5 separate regions of the Homo sapiens genome follow, and regions 1, 2, 3 and 5 are each linked to region 4. Evidence: fine-mapped expression QTL. A gene starts in region 4. Each other region holds a variant in brackets. All regions are shown on one strand. Distances are between the middles of the regions.

Region 1 (5,000 bases), 49 kb before region 4:
GTGAACAAAGGATTTGAATAGACATTTCTCCAAAGATATACAAATGCCAAATAAGTACATGAAAAGATGCTAAATACCACTAATCATTAGAGAAATGCAAATCAAAAGCACAATGAAATACCACTTCATATCCATCAGCATTGCTATTATGGGGGGGCGGGGGGAGGCAGAAAACAAGAGTTGGTGTGAATGTGGAGAATTTGGAACCCTTGTGCATTACTGGTAAAGATGTACAATGATGTCACCACTGTGGAAAACAGCATGGCAATCCCAAAAAACTAAACATGGATTTACCATTTGACCCAGCAATTCCAATTCTGGGTATATACAAAAAACAAATGAAAAAAGGAACTCAAATAGGTATTTGTACATCGATGTTCACAGCAACATTATTCACAACAGTCAAATGGTGGAAACAACCCAAGTGTCCATCCATGGATGAAATGATTCACAAAACATGGCATACAGATACGATGGAATATTATTCAACCTCAAAAAGGAAAGAAATTCTGACAGATGCTACAACGCGGTTGACCTGAAGACATGCTAAGTGAAATAACACTAAAGGATAAATAATGTATGATTCCATTTATATGGGGTACCTACAATAGACAAGCAAATAGAAACAGAAAATAGAATGGTGGTTACTAGGGGCTGCAGGGAGAGGGGAATGGGGAGTTATTGCTTAATGGATACAGAGTTTCAGTATAGAATGATGAAAAAGTTCTGAATGAAGGTGGACAGTGGAGATGATTGCAAAACAATGTAAATGTACTTAATGTCACTGAACTGTACACTTAAAAATGGTTAAAATGGTAAATTTTATCTTATATATATTTTACCACAATAAAAAAATTTCAAAAAAAAAAAAAACCTTCAATGCGCCGGTAAGACAATGCAACATGTTCTTAACATGGAATATAAAGCATTTTGGTCTCAATTTGCATTTCTAGGCCTTCCTCCAACCATTCCCTCCACCCTCTCCAATATTTTTGACAGACATCCACATTTAAACAGTCACCAGTCTCCAAATACTCTATGTGCCATTGGGTCTCCATGCCTTTAAATCATTTTGTCCCCTATGTGTATCCACCTGGTAAAACTAATCATCCTTCAAGTTACAGCTTAAAAGTCAAATATTCAGCGAACCCTTAATATCTTTCTTTTCCAACATAATGAAATGCTCCATTTAAATCATGATTAATACTATCACCTGTGCTCTGAATTCCATCCTTCTTTACCCACTCAGTAATAATCTCCTTCTCCTTAAACATTACACAATCTACTAGTCTGTGTTTTCATTAAGTAAGCCCTCTTAGCCCTCTTTTTTTTTTTTTTTTTTTTTTTGAGATGGGATCTCACTCCCTCTGTCACCCAGGTTGGCGTGGCGTGCAATTGAGTAATCTCTGCTCACTGCAATCTCCACCTCCCAGATACAAGCGCTCCTCCACCTAAGCCTCTCAAGTAGCTGGGACCACAGGCACGTGCCACCACGCCCAGCTAATTTTTTGTATTATTGGTAGAGATGGGGTTTCACTATGTTGCCCAGGCTGGTCTCAAACTCCTGAGCTCAGGAGATCCACCTTCCTTGGCCTCCCAAAGTACTAGGATTACAGGCGTGAGCCACCAAGCCTGGCACATTAAGTAAGCACTCTTCGCCTCTACACTAACAGCAACAACTATCATTTATTGAGTACCCACTATGGACCTGGCACCGTGCCAAGTGCTTTACAGATGTTATGTCATTTAATTCTCACAATATTACTCCCCAGATAGATACTACCAAAACCATTTTATACATAAGAATACTGAGGCTTACAGATGTTAAATATCGTCCTACAACTACAAGGTGGAACTGAGAATTAAATCTAGTTCTAACTCCAACCCGTATGCTCTTTCCACTCCATTTAAATCATTAATCAACAAATATTTATGGAACAACTATATGCCAGGTAC[T/C]GTGCTAAGATGGGAAAAAAATAATGCATATAATCCCAGCCCTCATGGAGCTTACAGTCAAGAGAGAAAGATTAATTAAATGATTATTTAAATTAAAAAATTAAAACTGTGATAAGAACTTTACTCTGCCAAATTAAAAGAAAAAAAAAACTGTGTGCCAGTCTAGCTACTACCAATCTTCCCTTCTTTTCTGCACAATGAAGTTTCCTGAAAGTTGAGTCTATTCTCCTTTTATTTCCTTATCCCTTCTCACTCAAAACTATGTCTTTTTTAGTTCTAAAGCAGAAACTGTTCTTCCCAGGATTATCAAAACCTCCTTAGTTGCCAAATCTGACATTTTAAATTTTTATTTATTTTTTAATTGACAGGATTTTGCTACGTGGCCCAGTATGGACCCAAACCCCTGGGCTCAAGCAATCCTCCCACCTCAGCATCCTGAGTAGCTGAGACTACAGGCACCAAATCAGACATCTTTTAAGCTTTTAGATTATTTTTATCTATATTATCACATTTTCAACTACCATCTTGAAACTTTCCTTTCTTTTAGCTTCTCTAACACCTTTCTCTATTTTTCCTATTATTCTACTCATTCACCAATCTATTCACTGTTCTTCCTCTACTAGTCCCTTAAATGTTTGTATTCCTTGACATTCTGTCCTTACTCATTTGGTGACCTCATCCACAACTATGATTTCAACTGCTGAAGTTTACCAAACCTGAATCTCCAACTGCTAATATAAGTTCCAGATCCTTATATTCAAATGACTGTGGGACATCTCTACTTGAAATGTTCTGTAAGTGTCTCAAACTCAGAATGTTATGAAACATTTTTTATTTCTGCTAAGTAAATGGCACCACAAACTATGATAACATATCAAATCAGACACCTTATGATCATTCAAGACATCCTAGGCCTGTACTCCCACAATTCTACATCCTGAATCTCTCTTAAAACTCAATTCCATTCTCACTAACTACTACTTCAGGTCAGTGTTCATCACAGCTTAACTAGATTATTATGAAAGGCTAACTGGTCTCCCCAAACAGACCCTTCTCAGGCTTCTTTCACAGAAGCCAGGGTGAGTGACCTTGCAAAAATACATGTTATGGCCAGGTGCACTGTTTCACACCTGTAATCCCCGCACTTTGGGAGGCTGACGCGGGTGGATCAGGAGGTCAGGAGTTTGAGACCAGCCTGGCCAACATGGTGAAACCCCGTCTCTACTAAAAATACAAAAATTAGCCAGGCGTGGTGGCATGCACTTGTAATCCCAGCTACTCGGGAGGCTGAAGCAGAAGAACTGCTTGAACCCAGGAGGTGGAGGTTGTAGTGAGATGAGATAGCGCCACTGCACTTCAGTCTGGGCGATAGAGCAAGACTCTATCTTGAAAAAAAACAAACATGTTATTAAACTCCATAATGCTCAAAATAAAAACCAAATACTATAACACAGAACACAAATGCAAAATCAAAACTATCTATCAAGCAATAACTCCCCATTTTCCCCTCCTCCAAACCTATGGCAAGCACTATTCTGTCTCTGATTCTGACTACTCTAAAAACCTCATGTAAGTGGAATCACACACTATTTTTCGTTTTCTAAAAGGCTTATTTAACTTAGCATAATTTCCCAAGGTTCATCCATGTTGTTGCATAATGCAGAATTTCCATCCTTTTTAAGGCTGAGTAATATTCCATTGTATGAATACTGTACATTTTGCTTATCTATTCATCCATCAATGGATATCTGAATTGCTTCCACATACTAGCTATTGTGAATAATGTTGCCATGAACCTGGTTGTATAAATATCTCTTTGAAACCCTGCTTTCAATTCTTTCAAGTGTATACCCAGAAGTGAAATTACTGGATCATACTGTAGTTCTATTTTTAATTTGTTGAAGAACCACCGTACTCTTTTCCATGGCAGCTACACTACTTTCATACCTGTCTTTTTTCCTAATCTTGGGGGGACAGCATTCAGTCTTTCATACTTAAGTATGATGATAACTGTTAGTTTTTTGTAGATTTTTTTTAACAGGGTCTCATTATATTGCCCAGGCTGATCTCAAACTCCTAGGTTCAAACAACCAAAGGAGCTGGGACTAACACACCCAGCTTTGTAGATGTCTTTATCATGTTATAGAAGTCGTCTTCTACTCCTAGTTTGCTTAGACTTTTTTTTTTTTTTTTTTTTTGAGACAGAGTATCACTCTGCCACCCAGGCTGGAGTGCAGTGGCGCCATCTCAGCTCACTGCAACCTCTACCTCTGGGATTCAAGCGATTCTCCTGCCTCAGCCTCTCGAGTAGCTGGAATTACAGGTGTGGGTCACCAAGCCCGGCTAATTTTCGTATTTTTAGTGGAGAGGGGGTTTCGCCACATTGGCCAGGCTGGTCTCGAATTCCCAACCTCAGGTGATCTGCCTACCTCAGCCTCCCAAAGTGCTGGGATTACAGGCATGATCCACCGCACCTGGCTGTGCTTAGACTTTTTATCAAAGCATTTTTGAAAACGCTTTTTCAGCATCTACTGAGATAATCACATAGTTTTCTCTGTTTGCTAACATGGTAAATCACAATGAGCGGGGTTTTTTTTGTTTTTGTTGTTTTTTGAGATGAAGTCTTGCTCTGTTGCCCAGGCTGGAGTGCAGTGGCACGATCTGAGCTTACTGCAACCTCAACTTTCTGGGTTCAGCCTCCCAAGTAGCTGGGATTTCAGGCATGAGCCACGATGCCCAGCTAATTTTTGTATTTTTAGTAGAGACGGGGTTCACCATGTTGGCCAGGCTGGTCTCGAACTCCTAACCTCAGGTGATCCGCCCTCCTCAGCCTCCCAAAGTGCTAGGATTACAGGCCTGAGCTACTGCGCCTGGCCAATGAGGGATTTTTTAATGTAAAACTAACACTGCACTCCTGGAATAAAGCCCCACTTGATCATGACACATTCATTCCTCTAATATGCTGTTGGATTCAATTGGCTAAAGTTATATTTAGAATTTCTGCATCTATGTTCATGAGGAGTTTTGGCCTAAAGTTTTCTTTC
Region 2 (5,000 bases), 22 kb after region 4:
TCTGGAACTCCTAGCCTCAAGTGATGCACCCTCCTGGGTCTCCCAAAGTGCTGGGATTACAGGCATGAGGCACTGCGCCCAGCTTGTATTTCTCCTAAAATGTCAAAATATCCTCTAGAGCCCTCAGTTAGCTAGGGCACCCCAGGGCTCCTCAAAAGACAATTTGGGAAACACACGTATAAAAGGGAAATCCCCTAACAAACCCTCAGGATATTAACACAGAACATCACAGAATCACAAATAGTGGTCATGATACTAACTTTCTCACCTGCATTAACCAGCCCCAGTTCCAGGCTGTCTTGGGGGAAGTAAAATGATAGGAGAAAATGGCCCTATTTGATGCTAAAATATTTGCAGAGAGCAGGCCTAAAAAGGACACCCCACAGGAGAAAAGTTCACGGGAAGAAAAGCAGAAGCCCTAGGCTGAACAGAAAGGAGAAAAAGGCGGCTGACCCTGCTCCTGAGGAGATGGATGAATGTGAGCAGGCACTGGCTGCTGAGCATCGGATAGCCAAGACCCCTTTGCTCACTTGCCCGAGTACCTTTGTGATGGATGAATTTAAGCACAAGTACTCCTATAAGGACACAATGTGGTGCTGCCGTATTTTCGGGAGCACTCTGATAAGGATGGTTGGTCTGAGTATTGCTTTCCTGAGAAGCTCACCCAGACCTTCTGGAGTTGCAATCTCATCGCTGGAATGTTCCAGCAGTTGAACAAACTGAGAAAGAATGCCTTTGCCAGTGCCATCCTCTTTGGAAGCAACAATATCAGCTCCATTTCTGGAGCCTGGGTCTTCACAGGCCTTGACACTGAGTCCAGATTGGCAGGTGGTCTTCGAGTCATACACGTGGCAGAAACTGGATCCTGGCAGCAAGGAGACCCAGACACTGGTTTGTGAGTACTGTTCCTGGAAAAGGGCCTTCCAGCATGTGGGCTAACTTCAGTCAGGGCAAGATCTTCAAGTAAACAGCTCTTGCCATTGCCTTGCTTCCTGTACCTGTTCTTTAAGGAGATGGGGATCATTAAAAGAAACTGAATATTGAAAAAAAAAAAGTTTAATTTAAGGTCAGTTTTTTCCATTTATGACGACTGAGAAATACCAAGTGCCTACTTAACAAGATTGCCATCCAACATTATTAAAATTTAAAATAAAAATATTGGGCCGGGAGTGGTGGCTCACACCTGTAATCCCAGCACTTTGGAAGGCCAAGGAGGAAGGATTGCTTGAGGCCAGGAGTTCAACACAAGCCTAGGCAGCAAAACAAGATTCTGTCTCTACAAAAAAATATTAAAAATTAGCTGGGCATGGTGATGCATGCCTATAGTCGTAGCTACTCGGGAGGATGAGATAGGAGGCTCGCTTGAGCCCAGGAGTTTGAGGCTGCAGTGAGCTATGACTGCGCCACTGCACTCCAGCCTGGGAAATAGCGTAAGACCCTCACTCTAAAAAATAAAGGAATAAATAAAAGTATTGTACTTTTAGCTACACTAAAAACTTCACAAGGTCATTGTCAGGCCCCATCCTTTCCTCAAAGAACACAGACCTTAGAGTCACATAGATTTGGATTCAAATTTAGACCCACTGCTTTCCACGATCTTGAGCAAGTCTCTCAATCTTTCAGATCACCTTCTCATAAAAAATGTAGACCATAATTCTCACCTCTTAAGTTCTTATGGAAAGTGAAAGAACATATAAAAAGTGCCTAGCACAGACCCTGGCACATAACAGGTGCTCAAGACCCCCTTGCCATTTCCTAAACATGCCTTAGACTTGCATCCTACTAAACCTTTGCAACATGGTGCTTCCTTGGCCTGATAAACCATACTGCTTTTGTCTGCTGCCAAACTCTGTTCATTCTGCGTCACCCAACTTAAATACATTCTTCTCTCTGAAGCTTCCCTTGGCTTCTTTGGAGAGAATGAGTCACTCTGTCTTGTTCAGTTCTGCAGGATTTACCACTATCGCCTCACTTGATCACATTGTGTTGTAATTGCTTATTTATGAATCTTCTCCCTCACCAGATTTTATGGTCCTCCTCCATGGCTGAAGCCACATATTTTCACAGCACCTAGCATGGTACTTGGCCCTCAATAAATGTTTCAATGAATGGAGGAATAATAATAGCAAACAGTCAGTGCTTAATTCTAGGCATTATTCCAAGTGCTTTACAAATATTATTAACTTGTTTAATCTTCATGACAATTCTATGAATTATTATCATTTCTCTCTTACAGATGAGGAAAATGGCACATAGAAAAGTTATGTAATTTGTCTAAGGTCACTCAGCTATTAACTGTCAAAGCCAGGATTCAAACCCAAGCAGTTGGTGTGAGTCCAGACTTTTAGCCAACACACTACAATGCCTCCCAGTGAACAAAGGAATGAACAATCACAAACAAATTTGCTTTTCCCAAATGTCTTTCTTTCTCAGGTTTTGGA[A/G]TGGCTCATCCATTCATTTAACAAACACTTTACATAGAGTTTTCTATGTGTATAATTATCACACTAAACACCAATCTCTGTTTTCCTCACCCCGGCCACACCCCACTTCACACAATCTTCACTGCTTGCCCCTAACCTCGACTGCTCTGTGAATTTCTTTGTTTTGTTTTGCTGGAGACAGGGTCTCACCCTGTCACTCAGGTTGGAGAGTAGTGGCATGATCATAGTTCACTGTAGCCTGGAACTCCTGGGCTCAAATGAGCCTCCTGCCTCAGCCTCCAGCCTCCAGCCTGAGTACGTAGGACTTCAGGTGCCCATCATCACACCTGGCTAATTTTTAATATGTTTTTGGAGAGATAAAATCTAGCTATGTTGCCCAGGCTGGTCTCAAACTCCTGGACTCAAGCAATCCTCCCACTTCAGCCTCCCAAAGTGTTGGGATTATAGGCATGAGCCACCGTGCCCAGTCCTCTTTCAGTTTCTGGAATGTGTTGTGCTCTCTCCCACCTCTGACCCATGACTGCCACATTGACTAACTAACTTGTACTTTTTCTTCAATTCTCAGCTTAAATTGCTTCCTTCTGAAAGACTTCCATTTGCCCCCTAAAGAAAGTTAGGTACACCTGCTCTGGGCTTCCCATGGCACTTGACACTTTCCTCATCATAACATTTTTCATACATACTCTTCTTGCCCATTTGCTTGTCAACCTTCTGCACTAGACTATAAGCTCTACAAGAGCAAGAACTGAGTCTATCCAGGTCGTCACTGAATCTGCAGCACCTAGCCTGATGTCTGGCATATAGTAGGTACCTGACACATATTTATCGAATGACAGATTGAAGCATGAGCAAGACAAAATCTCTATGCTTAAGTCTAGTGGGAGGCCAGGCACTATTCATTCCTATAATCCCAGTGCTTTGGGAGGCCCAGGCAAGAGGATCACTTGAGGCCAAAGGTTCAAGACCAGCCTGGGCAACATAGCAAGACCCCATCTCTACAAAAATAAATAAATTAGCTGGCATGGTGGTGTGTGGTTGTAGTCTTAGCTATTCAGGGGGCTGAGGTGGGAGGATCTCTTGAGCCCATGAGTAATTACAGTAAGCTATGATTGTGCCCCTGCACCCCAGTCTGGGCAATAGAGCAAGACCCTTTTTCTTAAAAAATAAAAAAATACAGAACTCTATTGGGGGAAATAAAAGCCTAGAGGGGATACAGGAAAATAAACACTTGTAGTATATTGTGATAAGTGCTATAATAGAGATCCCAGGGTCCTTCAGGGACATAGAGGGAAAGATTTCTAACTCTACTTGAGGTAAAGTGGAAGGGGGAAAGCTCACCAGAGTCTTAAAGGATAAGTGAGAGTTGAAAAGAAAGAAGTAGTATTAGCCAGGCGCAGTGGCTTATGCCTATAATCCCAACACTTTGGGAGGCCGAGGTGGACGGATCACTGAAGTCAGGAGTTCGAGACCAGCCTGGCCAACGTGGTAAAATCCCATCTCTATGAAAAATACAAAAATTAGCCGGGCGTGGTGGCACATGCCTGTAGTCCCAGCTACTCAGGAGGCTGAGGCACGAGAATTGCTTGAAGCTGGGAGGCAGAGGTTGTAGTGAGCCGAGATCACACCACTACACTCCAACCTGGACCACAGAGTGAGACTCCATCTCAAAAAAAAAAAAAAAAAGAAAAAGAAAGATGTAGTATAGAGGCAAAAAGCAAGAGCAAGAACTGTAATAGAAATTGCTTTTTAGCCTAAATGGCTAAATCATTTTTCTGTGTGTCTAAAAGTAACATTAATCTAAACTTAGTCTTACAATTGGCTTGTTTAGTAAGAATTTGGAAGCAATGTGAAATAACTTAAAAGGCAATTGATGGAATAATGTTATTTCTTAATTATCACTCCTATAAATTCCCATGAAAATCAGTTCTTTATTATCATATTTATCATGCTGCACTACCATTGTCAAAATGTGTCTATCCTACCTGATTGTGAGCTATTTAAGGCCTTGGATTAAAGAGCATTAAGATCTGATTCGATTCTATGTATTCCTCATACTGAGAACAAAGCCAGGCCCAGAGGATCTGTGAATACTCCAGCATGACCACAAAGTCCTAAATGAACTGACCTCCAACAAGCTCTGTTTCTTCTTGCGTCCCATACTCTGTGCTTCAGTCAATATTAAACACCCTTCAGTTCCCTGGACAAAATTTGGCTGCTTAAAGCCTCTAGGCCTTCACACATGCCGACTTCCATTGTCTTCCCACCCATTTCCCAGCGCTTATCTAACTAACTTCTACTCAGCTTTCAGCTTAAACATTACTTCTGAAGGAAGCTTTCTTTGACCTGAAGACACAATTAGACCTTCCTATTATATGGCCTTTAATGCCTTATATTTTTCTTTGGTGTCATTTATCATACTTGTAAATACTTACTCATTCTCTGTCCTTTAGATAGTAAGTTTCATAATTCAGCACTTGGACTAGAGCATATAAGACAGATGCTCAATAAAAATTATTTTGAATAAGTTACTGAAAAAATGAATAAAGTGCTACTATGTGT
Region 3 (5,000 bases), 280 kb before region 4:
TTACACTTCAGGCAAAGATCTGGTCAGTTTGCTTCCCAATTCTTACATATCTGTGCCAGCTCTTCTGTTATAAATGAATTATTCTTTAACATTCTTCAGGGCATCTTTTGCCCTTTGAAAGTACCATATCACTTTACCAGATGTTTAATTTCTTTGGAAACCTCATAACTTTAGAAAATGTGAATGTCTATTGCTTTTTTCACCATGCTATTAATTTATTTCCGAGGCCCTTGAACACTTTCCTTAGTTTCTCTGTCAGTGATACGGGACAGAGTATGTGACATAATCATAGATGTATTTAAGAACTCTTAATATTTCAAAGCAAAGTATTTTACTCTTTGCATATAAGTTAAACAAGTAAAGAATATATTTAAATTTGTATTTTTAATTCATTTATAACCACTTTTATATACAGTTACATTTCTGATGTTTCTGATTGTAAGTTGCCAAGTAATGATTTCTTTGTACATCTGGAATTGGTGACCTTCTCTTCTTTGATGTTAGAAAACCTTCCAATGCCACATTGATGCCTGTTTTATTTTTCTGGCCCCTCAAGTGGCTCAGCCCAGAGAGCAGAGGCGAGTTTGGTTTGCTGATGGGATCTTGCCCAATGGAGAAGTTGCTGATGCAGCCAAATTAACAATGAATGGAACTTCCTCTGCAGGAACCCTGGCTGTGTCACACGACCCAGTCAAGCCAGTAACTACCAGTCCTCTACCAGCAGAGGTAAGAAAACAAAACAGCAACTAAAATTGCATAGCTACTTTACTCAGCATTGTGCTGCCTCTGTTGAATTACTTTTGTGTGGAACTCTGTAGGTTTTGGATACAACTTAGTGTATACGTGCACATATATGGATAAAGTAAATGTGGCAAAAATCAGCTGCTGTTCTTTGCTGTATATTTAGAAGTTTTTTCAGGAGAAAGGTTCTTAATGAAGATTGTTCTCAGATGAGCTCAGGTGCTCCACTTTAGCTAGCAGTCGGGCTGTGGGGAATTCTGTCCCCTTGCTACATTGGTTTTTAAAGCATGTTCCCCAGGTTCCATGGCAGCCTCTCAGGAGTGCTATGGTGAGGAAGAGCAGGTAACATGAAAGGGCCTGAGGAGCTGAGTTTAAAACCCTGGCTTATCAACATCCCCTACCAGAGTGGTACACTTGTTACACTTGTTGAACCTACACTGACACATCGTAGCCAACCCAAGTCCACATTTTACATTAGGATTGGATACTTTTTTTTCTTTTTTTGAGATAGAGTCTCTGTTGCCCGGGCTGCAGTACAGTGGCGTGATCTTGGCTCACTGCAACCTCTACCTCCCAGGTTCAAGCAATTCTCCTGCCTCAGCCTCCAAAGTAGGTGGGATTACAGGCGCCTGCCATCATGCCAGGCTAATTTTTGTATTTTTAGTAGAGACAGGGTTTCACCATGTTGCCCAGGCTGCGTCTCGAACTCCTGACCTCAAGTGATCCACCCCCTCAGCCTCCCAAAGTGCTAGGATTACAGGTGTGAGCCACCACACCCTATCAGGATTGGATAAAAATTTTACTCCTGATGTTTTCATAGAATTGTTAGTTACTAATTATTTATATTAATGATAAGTAATATTTTTTTAGACATTTACATCCTATATAATTTGTGAGTTTGATTGTAATTGAAATTGCATGTTGTTAAGATTAGATTTTTTGACATGCAGAGCTGACTTACCTGTTTGGTGAGTTATTGAACCATGTAATATCTGTCTTCAAATATTTCTAGTTTTTGAATTTTTCTGTGGCTGCAGAGGGTGACAGCCAGAACTGTGTCTTATCCTTCTTTGTATCTCCACAGTGACTTTGTCAAGAAAGTTTTTTCTTTATTCCCCCCAACTGTTTTTTTGTTTGTTTGTTTTGGTTTTTTTTTTTGAGACAAGGTCTCACTCTATCGCCCAGGCTCCAGTATAGTGCCGCAGACATGGCTCTCTGCAGCCTTAACGTCCCAGGCTCAAGCAATCCTTCTGCCACAGCCTCCCAAATAGCTGGGACTGTAGGCAAGCCTGGCCACAACTGTTTATTTGGAAAAAAATTCAACCTACAGAAAAGTTACAAGAATAGTACAGTGAATACCCATATACTCTTCACCTATCTTCATCAA[CT/C]TAACCATTTTGCCACATTTGCTCTACCACTTCACAGTACACACGCTTTTTTTTTATGACCCATTTAAGGATTGGTTGCACTTCACCACTTAATAGTTCAGCTTGTGTACCCTAAGAAAAGTCATTTTCTTATACAACCACAATGCAATTATCACATGAGATGGAAACTTAACATGTAATTCTGGTTTCCCCAATTGTCACAATAATGTTCTTTATAGCTTTAATTTTTTTGTTTTGTTTTGTTTTGAGATGGAGTCTTGCTCTGTCGCCCAGGCTGGAGTGCAGTGGTGCGATCCTGGCTCACTGCAAGCTCCGCCTCCCGGGTTCACGCCATTCTCCTGCCTCAGTCTCCCGAGTAGCTGGGACAACAGGCGCCCGCCACCATGCCCAGCTAATTTTTATGTATTTTTAGTAGAGATGGGGTTTCACGATGTTAGCCAGGATGGTCTCGATCTCCTGACCTCCTGATCTGCCCTCCTTGGCCTCCCAAAGTGCTGGGATTACAGGCGTAAGCCACCGCGCCTGGCCTATAGCTTTCATTTTTACATATATGTGTGTGCACAGATATATTAATTTTTAAAATAAAATTTATTTTTAAAAATCAAGATCTCATTAAGGACCACAGTTGCATTTAGTTGTCATATTTCTTTGGTTTGCTTTAATCTTGAATAGTTCTCTCTCTTTTTTAAAGTTTTTATATCATTAATATTTAAGTATTTGGGCCATGTTTTACATGATACTCTCAATTTGTATTTGTCTGTTTTTTTTTTTTCTCATGACTAGTTTCAGATTAAACATTTTTTGGCAGTAATGACAATCCTACATAAGTGAGGGTGATTTCTTAAAGGATCACATCAAGAAGTATTAGTTTGGGTTGGGTGCAGTGGCTCACATCTGTAATCCCAGCACTTTGGAAGGCCAAGGCAGGAGGATTGCCTGAACCCCGAGTTTGAGACCAGCTTGGGCAACATAGTCAGACTCTGTCTCTATATAAAATTAAAAAATTAGCTGGGCATGATGGCACATGCCTGCAGTCCCAGCTACTCAGGAGGCTGAGGCAGGAGGGTGATGATTTTCTCTTTCTGTTAAATTTCTTTCCTATCTCTTAGTTTGTATGATGGGTTCTTAAACTATAAATATTTTTGAAAGAATGAGGAAAGTCTAGTGAGTGAATGTTATAGGGAAACAATTTTCTGCTCATTATAAGACAGGCTAAGCCACATTATTTTGTGCTCTCACATTGTGCAACACTCTAATATTTATGTGGTAAAATGAGAGAAAGCAAACTCTTTAATGCCAGACTAGAAAATATTAATATTTTTCTTATTTTTATGGTCTAGTAGAGTGCCTGGCACTTAACAAGTGCCCAGTAAATGAAGTAAATGTCTTTTTATTATTATTATTATACTTTAAGTTCTGGGATACATGTGCAGAACCTGCAGGTTTGTTACATAGGTATACATGTGCAATGGTGGTTTGCTGCACCCATCAACCCGTCATCTAGATTTTAAGCCCCACAGTAAATGCCTTTTCACAGAAGGCATTTAAGTAGAGACCAACTGACCACTTTTTATGATATTAAAAGGAGGATTTTTGCACCATTCAATAGTAGGTTAGAATAGATTATTTTCTGTACCAGGCCTTCAAGTCAGTTAATGGTAGTTTGCCAGTAAAATTTTATAAAGTTCCTATATGATGCCATACCGGAAAATTTTAGAAATCCCACTAAAAATGTATAGTCCTAAAAACTTTGTCCTAAGTAGAGACAGAAGTATGGCAAAACATGGGCATATTTATTTTATTTTATTTTATTCTTTGTTTGAGTCAGAGTTTTGCTCTTGTTGTCCAGGCTGGAGTGCAGTGGCATGATCTCAGCTCACTGCAACCTCCGCCTCCTGGGCTTGAGTGATTCTCCTGCCTCAGCCTCCTGGGTAGCTGGGATTACAGGCGCCCACCACCACACCTGGCAAATTTTGTATTTTTAGTAAGAGACGGTTTCACCATGTTGGCAAGGCTGGTCTTGAACTCTTGGCCTCAGGTGATCTCCCCTCCTTGGCCTCTCAAAGTGCTGGGATTACAGGCATGAGCCACCATGTCCAGCCATATTTTGAAGAAATAGTTTTAATGTTTGTTCAGGTATACAATATATGTAGCAAAATGCATGACTAAGGAGCATGAATCTTTAGGAAACACCTTGAATTTATACATGGTTTTATATATATGTGCATGTGTGTATACACACACAAACACACACACATAAAATATGTAAGCACCATTCAGGTGAAGATACAGAACATCTCCAGCACTCCATAAGGGTTCCTTATGCACTTTTTCTGTCAGTACCTTCTCCTTTCATCAAGGTAACCATTGTTCTCACTTCTGTCCCTACAGATTAGTTTTGCTTATTCTTGAATTCATATAAATCCAAACAATAGTATATAATGTTTTGTGTTTAGCTTTTTAAGCTCAACTTAATATTATGAGATTTATCCATATGCATCAAAAATTAATTTATTTCTGAGTAGTATTCCATTGTATGGATATGCCATCATTTATGTTATGTTCTCCTGTTAGTGGCCATTCAAATTGTTTCCAGTTTTTGGCTATTATGAATGAAATGAAGCTGCTAGAAATAATCTTTTTTTTTTTTTTTTTTTTGAGTCTCGCTCTGTTGCCCAGACTGGAATGCAGTGGCAGGATCTCGGCTCACTGCAACCTCCACCTTCCAGGTTCAAGCAATTCTCCTGCCTCGGCCTCCCAAGTGGCTGGGATTACAGGCACACGCCCAGCTAATTTTTATATTTTTTGTAGAGATGGGATTTCACCATATTGGCCAGGCTGATGTTGAACTCCTGTCCTTAAACAATCTGC
Region 4 (5,000 bases):
AGTCTCACTATGCTGCTCAGACTGATATCAAACTCCTACGCTCAAGCAATCCTCTCGCCTCCACTTCCCAAAGTGCTGAGATTACAGGCGTGAGTGAGCCACCTGGCCAGGCCCTACAGGTAAGTGTTGGTTATTTTGTTTCTCTGAAACTAGAAACTTTAACAGTGAATAAATTCAAACACCTTTCTTGATCAACAGATCCTGATTTGACATTCTGTAGAGAACACAACATAATTAATGGTACTTATTTTTATGTCAAGATTAACTTTGAGATAAAAAAGAATTCTAATTACTTACTCTAAAATGAATCTGCTGAGAGCTAATAAAAATTCTCTTTAAACAGCTCTTTGTTAATCAGAGAAATTTATAATTATACATTTTGATTCTAAAAGGTCTAAAATTAAAATGTAGACACTGTACTGTTCTAGCTCCAGCAACTAAAAATAAATGTAATTTTAGGTGTCACTTAGAATTTATAAACTTGAACTTATATGCATGACAATATTTGTTAATTTATCTGTACTAACAACTTGGCCTATGACAATGAAAATACTTTAAATTTCTTTTCTGTATTTAAATGTTTGCTGGATTTAAAACATCAAATGTCATTAACTTTCACTTCCATTTCTGAATTATTTTAAGAAAACTTCATTTTTCATTTTCCACACTAGCCAAGTGAAAAACTGCAAGCAGCAGAAAAATTTATCTAAGAGTTTTAAAAGTAAGTTTCTTTTGTTTATATTAAATATAAATATTTTTAAAGCATAAAACGACTTAAAATTCTTATCTTCCCCAAAGTATATGGTTTCTAAGAAGCAATCTTTAAAAATTTGTTTATAAAAGCAACATAGCACACTAGACACTAATGAGTTATCTTAAGCACAGCTTTTTAAGAGAATCAATATTTCATTTTACCAGTTGTGACTAATCAGTACTACGATGCAGTGTAGTGACATACATGAGTTCTAAGCCTAAAGAAAATTTCAGCGCGCTCGCGCGCGCACACACACACATACACACACACACACAAAGTCGGCTTTTCTTTTTAAACCATCCCACAATTCAACACCTCTCGGTGGTATTCTCTGAATTATCATATCTGGCTGGGATTATCCAATTTTATTAGCTAACAGTTCTCATTACTTTAAAAACAGAAACAGGATATGTTCTGTTTCATCAAGTGCTACAAACATTTCGCTGCTGTAAGACTGGAGGGAAAAAATCTTTGGAAATAAAAGGCCATCTGATCCACTCGGGCTAATTACTAAATGCATGCCAACAATACACAATTCGAATTGCATTTCTGGACACAATTTAAGATCACGATAGGGCAGGTCAAATGTGTAAGGAACTACTACTTCTATCAAAATGAAGAAGCAGATATACGGTATCTAAGATCTCACGCAAAATTCATCTAAGACTTCGAAATCTTCTGAAAAGAAAATGTGTAATCAACGTTGTTAATACAACAGTAATTCATCCCATTCAAGTACGACTAGAAATCCCGCTGATGTGCTTCTTTCAGGTCTAAACATCTCATTCTTTCGCAATCCAGATACCAACAGGAGTCTGAAACCCTTCGCAGAGGCGTGCAACACACTAGGAGAGCGCTATCTGTTTACAAATACGAATCTCAGTTACCCACGTCAAAACCGCGCATTACCACCTTTCGACTGGGGGGCGGGGGAGAGAGAAGGCGGGCGAGCAAGAAACAAAATCCACACAGACACCTCTGCCTTCTCCCTACAAGGACGAGCCCGGGGAAACATTCAGTATGTATTATATGCGTGTATACATTTATATACATTATGTAGTCACCTATGTCTAAGCAAGGGTGAAAGAAAAAGGTACACATGACAGGGAATCGTAACTGGACCCAACAGAAATGTTCAAACCAATCCCGTTAACTCAAAATCCGCCCCGCTGGTCTACAACAGGTTTCGGTCCGGGACCGGGAGCCCCAGCCACAGTGTGGAGTTCGTCCCCAAAGCGCCCCAATGCCCTCCTCAGGCCGCCCAGGCCGCCGTCCCCACCTCCCTTATCTCAGCCTTCCCCTGGGACACCCGAAGCCCGTTCCAGGAAAGAAAGAAGTGTCAGGCCCCCAGGGGGCGGCTGAGACGCTCTCAGGCCAGGCCCCCGACACCTGCGAAGCGCGGCACCTGGGGAGGGCGAACCGGGGGCCGCCCGGCCTTCCCGAGCACACCCCCTCGGTACCCGACGCTGCCCCGCGGCCGGAACCTCGTACCTGCGAGGCCCGCGAGCTACAGGCGCGCGCGACGCCTCCTCATCTCAGTGGCTCCTGCTCTCCCTCCGCCTCCTGCTGCCGCCGCCGTCGCCGCTGCCGCCGCTGGAGGCCGGGACACGACTAGCTCAGGACTCCACCGCCATGTCCGCCGCGCCGCGAACTGCATTGTGGGGGGGAAGGGATGGGGAGGGGGAGGAGGAGGGAGAGGGAGAGGGAGAGAAAGAGGAGGACCCGCTGAGGGGAGGGGGCGAGGGAGAGCGGTTGCCGGGGGAGAGGGGGAGGGGAGAGGACAGAGCCTGTAATGGGGTCCTGGCCCGGGAGAGGAGGAGCTACGCGCAGAGGGAAGGGTTCAGGGGTGCCCCCTCCCTTCGTTCGGGGGGCCCCACAGGCACCGTTTACACCGGGGCGGGGGAGGGGGGAAACAGCACTGGGGGGAGGGGTCTCGTGGTGGCCGCGAAGAAACAATGGGGAGAAGGCCGAGGTAGGAGGATCGCGCACTCACACCCACGCGGAGGGAAGGGAGCGCGCGAGAGACACTCGTTAGCTCGCGAGGAGGGGGCGGGCCGCTGGCAGAGGGGAGGAGGGAGCCACCCGGGGCTCGCGGGCAGGGGCGGGGCCGCCGAGCGGAGGTCGCGAGGTCCCGCAGCCCGCCTGGGCGCCGCGGGTTAGCCGCGCTGATTCGCCCGCTTGCCGGAGTGGGTGGGGGTGGCGGGCGCCCCAGTGCTGCCCCAGTCTGGTTCCTAGTCTCTGCCGAGGCCCCCGAGCTGGAAGCCGAGCCCGAGGGCCGCCTCGGCGCCTCGCTCCCAAGGCTGCTCCCCCTGGGGAGGAAGGCCGGCCTGGAATGGGTACCCTCTGGCCTGGCACTCGGACTGGGCGTGGCCCGAGCCTCGGCGGACCCTCGGAAGCCCAAGCGGGCTTCGGAGCAACGGTAGGGAGCGGGGCAGAGGAAGCCGCCAGGGTCGACCCCCACCCACTCACCACGGCCTCCAGCCCACCGCAGCTGGACCTTTTTTCCTTTGAAAAGGCAGGCAGTTCAGGAATGAAGGAGCTCGAAGAGAAATCTCTGGAGCACTCCATCTCCCACCCCCAAAAGAGGTTTTAGAAATCATTTCTTTAGCTGCAGGCGGGCATAAAACCATCTACCATCAATGGGCCCCCTCATCCCCTTGCTTTTAACGTATTACATTCCTCTACATAATTATTTAAAGTCACGGGCGGAACGGACTTAAGGTTTTGTTAGTTTTGTTTTTTGTTGTTTTTTTTTAAGACCCCAGCCTCAGAGATTATTTAGCCAATCTCTGACCTCAAAGCTGGACAAAGCACACAACCTCTGTGCTCTGTGCCCAGTCCTTTGAGTTTGACACATGCTAGGCAGGAAAAAGGTATGAAAAGAGTGGACGTAGAGGTGAAGGGAAGATGTTAAATCTTAAGTATTTACAAGATAGTGCCTTATAAATTTTCTTATAATGTGACTCAGGCTGGGACTGGTTAGAGGTCACAGAGGGACGCTCCACTTCACGATAGCCCTGTGAGTTACGTACTGTTGCTCTCATTTACGGATGAAAAAACTAGGGTTCAGAGTTAGTGCATTTTACCCCAATCTGGCTGATGCTACAAGGCCCAGGTATAATGGATAGAGGACTGGATTTCAAGTCAAAAGAGCCCTACCTGGTTTTGGCGTTTATCAACATGATGCCTTTGAGCAAATGTACCCTCTTGAGTTTCCTCATCTGCAAATTCTTAATCTGTATCCCTGCTTCGCTTGACTAGCCTGGAAACAAAGAAAAAATCCCTACTTCACCCGGCTGAAAGCCTAAAGCCTATAGAGACACTAAGAAGATACCGACATGCCCTTCAATTCAGTGATAGCAGTGTCCTTAGAACAAGTTCAATTGAGTAAACATTTCCTAATTACTTAAGAGCAAAGCGTTGTTAGGTGCCTAGGGAAACAAAGACAAATCATTGCTTCCTGTCTCCAAAAAGTTCCCCATTGAGCAAGCAGGTGAGCTACAATAAAAGCAACAGGTCTTATTAACAAAGGGCTGGGCAAATCCAGAGGAGAGTGTGATAAATTCCACTTTGGTGAGACTTCCGTGGAAGAACTAAAAGCTGGACCTTGAAGATCTGTCTGCTGTGTGCCAGACACATGTCTGTGATTCAGAGGGCAGCATTGACTCTGGAGTGTGCAGAAGATAATGAATCTGGAAAAGAAAACTGGGGCCAGACTGAAAATTTCAGTGCCTCTCTGCCCTTATCCCCTCCAGATACTCTCTTCTACTACCTTGCTTATTCCCCAAGACCCAGCTCAACCTCTACCTTCTTTATTAAATCTTCCTGATTACCACCCCTCCTCTGCACTCCACTGAATGTGATCCCTCTATTCTCTGAATTCCGTGACCCCAATAGATTGTACACTTCAGCACAGATACTTACAAGGTATTCCTTCTGATACCTACATAGTTGTCGAGTTGAAAATTTTGACAACTATAATTTTATCATCACAGCTAGAGCAAGTATGGTTCTGACACAAAGAATAAGGAAATTTATGGAGTATAAGGTTTAATTCATGCCCAGGGTCATACAGTAAGTCACAGGCTGGACTAGAATACCAGCCCTGTATTCTTCCCATTGAACCACAGGTTTTTGAGATATAAAATGGTAAATGTCTGATTTCTATGTAAAAATCCTCTGAGGACTTAAACTTTCAAGGGAAATCTCATGATTGTGGTTAAGCCTCCAGTCTGGAAGTTCTGAA
Region 5 (5,000 bases), 89 kb before region 4:
TGACCTTCAATCTGAAGGAACTATCAAGATAACTAGTAAAATACTTTTTCCTTATACTGTTCACATTTGAAAGTTTTAAACATAGAGTCAGTAATCTGTAAACTTTTAAAATGAAAAGTATATACATGGCCTATAAAGATAAACTTACCAACGTATTATATAAACTGATATCGCCTTCTAACCCACTTCGCCTGTGTTCAAATTTTACTATAGGCACTTTGGCAGTAGTTATAGGCAAAATGTTTCTTAAACCTAATTTAAAAAAAAAAGACTTCAGTAGGTTAAATAATTTTCATATATGCTAAAAAAATTTATTTTGTTTTACAGATAAGATTCAAAATTCATACCTGGATGTCTCTTAAGAATTTTTGCCAAATTTTCAATTATTTCCTTACAATTTAATTTCTAAAAAACAAATCAAATAAATAAGTTTGACTCAATTTCACCTTGTGCAAATTCTACTTTAATCTAAGCATTTAATAGTAGCATTTACAATTTCCAGCCATAAAGCTCTATAATAACCTTGCTACTCCAAGTAAGTGATTCATAGACCTACAGTATCAGCATAATCTGGAAACTTGATAGAAATGCAGAATCTGAGGACCCTCCCCAGTCTACTAAATCATAATCTGCATTTTAACAGGATCCCAAGGTAATTCACATGCAGATTAAAGTTTGAGAAGCACAAAGACAGGAGAAGAATATGGTTTTCAATAAGTGAATAAACAACTAGAGGTGAGTTTGGTGAGGGCAAAACAATATACTGATTAAGTACATAGGCTCCAAATTGAGACAAACCTGGATTCAAATCTTTTTTTTTTTTTTTTTTTTCTTTTTTTGAGACGGAGTCTTGCTCTTTCGCCCAGGCCGGAGTGCAGTGGTGCTATCTCGGCTCACTGCAAGCTCTGCCTCCCGGGTTCATGCCATTCTCCTGTCTCAGCCTCCCGAGTTGCTGGGACTACAGGCACCCGCCACCGTGCCCGGCTAATTTTTTTGTATTTTTAGTAGAGACCAGGTTTCACCGTGTTCACCAGGATGGTCTCGATCTCCTGACCTCGTGATCCGCCCGCCTCAGCCTCCCAAAGTGCTGGGATTACAGGCGTGAGCCACTGCACCCAGTCTCAAATCTTAAACTAAGTATTGATTAGCTGTGTGACTAACCAGATGTTTAACCTCTCTGAGCATTACATTACTATTCTATAAAATCAAGATAATCATAAACTCCTGTCCTGCAGAGCTGTTGGGAGGATTACATGAGACATGTATGTAAAGCACTCAGCAGAATGCCTGGCACAAAATAAGCCTTTAAATCTGTGAGTTATTTATTATAATTATGTTGATATGGAAAAGAAAGATACTCCTATTATCACCAGCACCTATTTCTCCAAGGAAATTCTTACCTCTGTAAATTTAAATGTGTTACTCTTGTAAAAACCAGAGACAGCAGAGTTGGTATGGTAATGATAATCATAATACATAATGATTATGGCATTAAAAATTAACTGGAAATAGCTGAAGGGTATAAACATCAATCCCAAGAGTTATAAAGTCATTTGCATTTTTCCAACATGTTCTTTTTAGCTACATGAGAGCAGGAGCCATTGCAGCTAAACCAAAGGATTTCAAAGAAACCATTAGTTACTAATTCACATATGATAAAATTAACAAAGGAGGTAATTTTTCTCTTTATTATTCAACGATACAATTATGCTAATCTTAAAAGTTTCAATTATGGCTCATCTGAAAGAAAATGATTTATTATTTTCATTGTTTCAACTTCCCAGTAGGAATGGCACAGATTATATATAATATACAAACCCTTAGTGATTAGAAGTTTAATAAATTTTACATAGAAGATATCTAAAACTCTAACCTCTTTCCTGGGTATAAAAATCATTTCCTATTCCCTCAATTCTTACTCTTCAGAATGGAGAAGGGCAGCCACTTTCCAAGTAGGTGGCTCTAAGCAGAATTTAAGTAAAGGAGAACAAATAAAATACTTGCAACTTTTCAGTTTCTTTATAAAACAAGATGTTAAGACACCAGAAGCAACTTCTTATGGCCAGAAGTTAAGTCATCACTGCCATCTTTACTCCGGGTCTAACAATTTCAAAACCACCGTTCAAAAGAATGATTTTAGAAAAGCACACTATTCTGCTGAATTCTTTTATAATGTAACAGAGGCGATACTGACACCACTACAGATGCCAGAAGCTGGGCCTCACCCCAATCTTGCAAACAGTCCCGCATTTTGAAACATAAATAACAATAGCTAGGCTGGTAAAGGACTGAACATCTACAA[G/A]GATACCCTCCTTTGCTAGTTGCTGTTGAGAAGGCCTGGGACACTTCTTCCCTGTCCAATCAGTCTTTTTCTTCCCTGGAGCTTGGACAATCTCCTTCCCACTATTAAGGCCTGGTATACAAAAAAGGAAAGCGTAAGTACCCACTCTTACTGCTGAAATTGCACTTGGGGAAGGTCTGCTCCTGGCATCTCACGGTGGAACTCAGAAAGCTATCAGTTTCAGAAAGCAGTGGTTAGGTTCTACAGTACTATTAGTACTATATTTCAGCTACATTATGGGTTAAAAAAATTACAGAGAGGCAGTGAGATACAATGGAAAGAGCATGAACTCTGGAGTCAGACAGACCTGGGTTACGAATCCCGGCTCCAACAATTACTAGCTGTGTGAACTTGGACAAGTCAGTTTATCTTTCAAAGCCTCAGTTTCCTCATCTGTAAAATGGGGGAAATAATACCTACCTCGAAGGTGGTTGTAAGAATGAAATGAGATAATGTATGTAAAAGTGTATACTGGGAACTCAATAAATGTTAGTTCTCCTCCCCGCCCAAAATGAGTTTCTAAAAGCTATCTTAGCATTTTATTTATTTATTTTTTTTTTAATTTTCTGAGACGGAGTCTCACTCTGTCACCAGGCTGGAGTGCAGTGGCGTGACCTCGGCTCACTGCAACCTCCGCCTCCTGGGTTCAAGCGATTCTCCTGCCTCAGCCTCCTGAGTAGCTGGGACTACAGGCGCGTGCCACCATGCCCAGCTAATTTTTTTTATTTTTCGTAGAGACGGGGTTTCACCATGTTGGCCAGGAGTGTCTTGATCTCTTGACCTCATGATCCGCCCACCTTGGCCTCCCAAAGTGCTGGGATTACAGGCATGAGCTACCACGCCCAGCCCTTAGCATATCATCTGTAACATTGCTTCTATGGAAAAAATTTTATGTGAGTGGTCAAAAATTATAACTAACTTTTAGAACAAAACCAATTATAAATTAGATGACCACCTATATTTACTACCTATAGTAACACAAAGACATCATCTAATGAAAGAGATATGAGAAGACAAAGTATGAAAGATCAATGTTCACTACAAAACTGATGCATCAGCTTCCCATTGGTTCTAGTGAAAAAATTCCAACTTCGTGATATATTTTTTCCCAAAATTCATTACAAATCACTGTAACTCTCAGTGACATGGTTTTTGTATCATAAAATTACTGAAACACTTTTACTTAAGAGTTCAATGTCTTCTAAACTGAAAATGCTACTGTTTTCATATTTCAAACACTTATTTTGCTAATATATTTATACAAAGAGTGATACCACATTTTTATCAATATCACATACAAAAATAAACATAGAATCGTCATTGGGAGAAAATAAACTTACATAACGCTTTCCAAACACTCTTACCTCTGCATTTTCATGGCCTTCCAGGGTCATACAAATATCCAGATCACTATCACGAAATCCAAATCCATTCTTAGAAGAGCCAAATAAGCACAACCTTGCCTTTTCTAAGCAAAGGAAAACAAAGTCCAAGGCCTTATTATAAGCAGAGAGGAGGAGTCTTCTGCTATCTGCTGATGACCTAATACAACATGCTCTTGTCCATTTCTATGATTTAAATTACCTACCACTGGAAGAAATACTGAGAAATTCCAAAACATCTTGAGCCCAAGCTTTTGCCCAAGTTCCCATACCCATGTACCCAACTGCTTTTTCCAATTTTCCACAGACATCATACATTCAACACGTCTGAACTATCAACTTTGCCCCAAATCTATTACTATTTCTATTATCCCTGTTCTTAGCAAATAGTACCATCATGTACACAGATGCCCACATCAGAAATACAGGTGCAATCCTTAATATCTGTCTCTCAATGTCCACATCCAAACAATCATTGAGACTTTTAGCTTTTTCCGACTTACATAATAAATCCATCTGCTTTTATACATTCTCAACATCACTACCAATAGTTAAGATCAATATTTGAGGACTGCCCTCTTAAAAATAAATTAGTTCTTTCAAAGCACAATTCATGTAGGTTTACAAATATCACCTTAGTATACGATGCTCTTCCAAAAATGAGTGATTATAGTCCACTTGATATAAATTATGATAGGGTTAACCCTTCAGACTCAGTGTCATCCAATAACAGCTACCATTTCAAATAAGCTGTGGTTTAACAGAATTGGATTTTTCTTCCTATTACTTTTTTTTTTTTAGAGACAGGGTCTTGCTATATTGCCCAGGCTAGAGTGCACTGGCTATTCACAGGCACAATCATTATACACTACAGTCTTGAACTCCTTGCCTCAAGCAATACTCCCACCTCAACCTCCCAAGTGGCTGAGATAACAGGTGTGTGCCACTGGGCCTGGCTCTTCCTATTAATTCTAAAGTAGACTACACATTTATAGGACACTTTATACTTTCAAAACTTCATACCCCCATCCAGTTCTGATGCTCTACTTGAAATTTCAATGATAGCTGAGAGGCAAAAAAGAAGCTATACTCATCAGCAAATAAAACTGAGCATGATTTTATATAATAGAGACTTAGATTTGGTCAATACTTTATATACTCCTATAATCCCAGCGCTTCAGGAAGCCAACCAATGTGGGAGGATCGTTTGAGACCAGGCTGGGCAACATGGTGAGACTTTGTCTTTACAAAAATTTTTTAAGATAAAAAAGAAGGCG

Direction of the effects. Alleles are on the strand shown, and positions count from the first base shown. SD is a standard deviation of normalised expression in the study named. Not every link is listed here.
For the expression in cerebellar hemisphere of the gene that starts at base 2,407 in region 4, allele C in region 1 goes with a higher level than allele T (moderate effect, 0.69 SD a copy in GTEx).
With allele G in place of A in region 2, the expression in prostate of the gene that starts at base 2,407 in region 4 is higher (moderate effect, 0.62 SD a copy in GTEx).
For the expression in putamen of the gene that starts at base 2,407 in region 4, allele CT in region 3 goes with a lower level than allele C (large effect, 0.79 SD a copy in GTEx).

The links. PIP is the estimated chance that this variant, and not a neighbour inherited with it, causes the effect.
Region 1: its variant is the best candidate, but not a certain one, in a credible set for the expression of TUT4 in cerebellar hemisphere (GTEx, PIP 0.57).
Region 2: its variant is the best candidate, but not a certain one, in a credible set for the expression of TUT4 in prostate (GTEx, PIP 0.89).
Region 3: its variant is the best candidate, but not a certain one, in a credible set for the expression of TUT4 in putamen (GTEx, PIP 0.65).
Region 5: its variant is the best candidate, but not a certain one, in a credible set for the expression of TUT4 in blood mononuclear cells (TOPMed, PIP 0.59).

The regions. Positions count from the first base shown.
Region 1 is chr1:52,501,286-52,506,285 of GRCh38, forward strand. All of the region lies in intron 4 of TUT4 (terminal uridylyl transferase 4), which reads right to left. Among named protein-coding and RNA genes, the nearest start is that of TUT4, 49 kb to the right of the region's middle. The variant T/C (reference allele first, on the strand shown) is at 1,957.
Region 2 is chr1:52,572,855-52,577,854 of GRCh38, forward strand. It overlaps the pseudogene EEF1GP7. Among named protein-coding and RNA genes, the nearest start is that of TUT4, 22 kb to the left of the region's middle. The variant A/G (reference allele first, on the strand shown) is at 2,442.
Region 3 is chr1:52,267,907-52,272,906 of GRCh38, forward strand. ZFYVE9 (zinc finger FYVE-type containing 9) reads left to right here. Exons shown (of 19, transcript NM_004799.4): 7 at 557-726. Among named protein-coding and RNA genes, the nearest start is that of CC2D1B, 96 kb to the right of the region's middle. The variant CT/C (reference allele first, on the strand shown) is at 2,129.
Region 4 is chr1:52,550,686-52,555,685 of GRCh38, forward strand. TUT4 (terminal uridylyl transferase 4) reads right to left here and starts at 2,407. Exons shown (of 30, transcript NM_001009881.3): 1 at 2,246-2,407. It overlaps LOC105378723 (a long non-coding RNA gene), which reads left to right. Exons shown (of 4, transcript XR_007066083.1): 2 at 1-119; 3 at 672-721; 4 at 1,556-2,152. RefSeq lists silencers at 2,020-2,349, 2,420-2,549, 2,590-2,699, 2,710-3,109.
Region 5 is chr1:52,461,365-52,466,364 of GRCh38, forward strand. It overlaps TUT4 (terminal uridylyl transferase 4), which reads right to left. Exons shown (of 30, transcript NM_001009881.3): 16 at 3,706-3,809; 17 at 348-405; 18 at 149-252. Among named protein-coding and RNA genes, the nearest start is that of PRPF38A, 59 kb to the left of the region's middle. The variant G/A (reference allele first, on the strand shown) is at 2,303.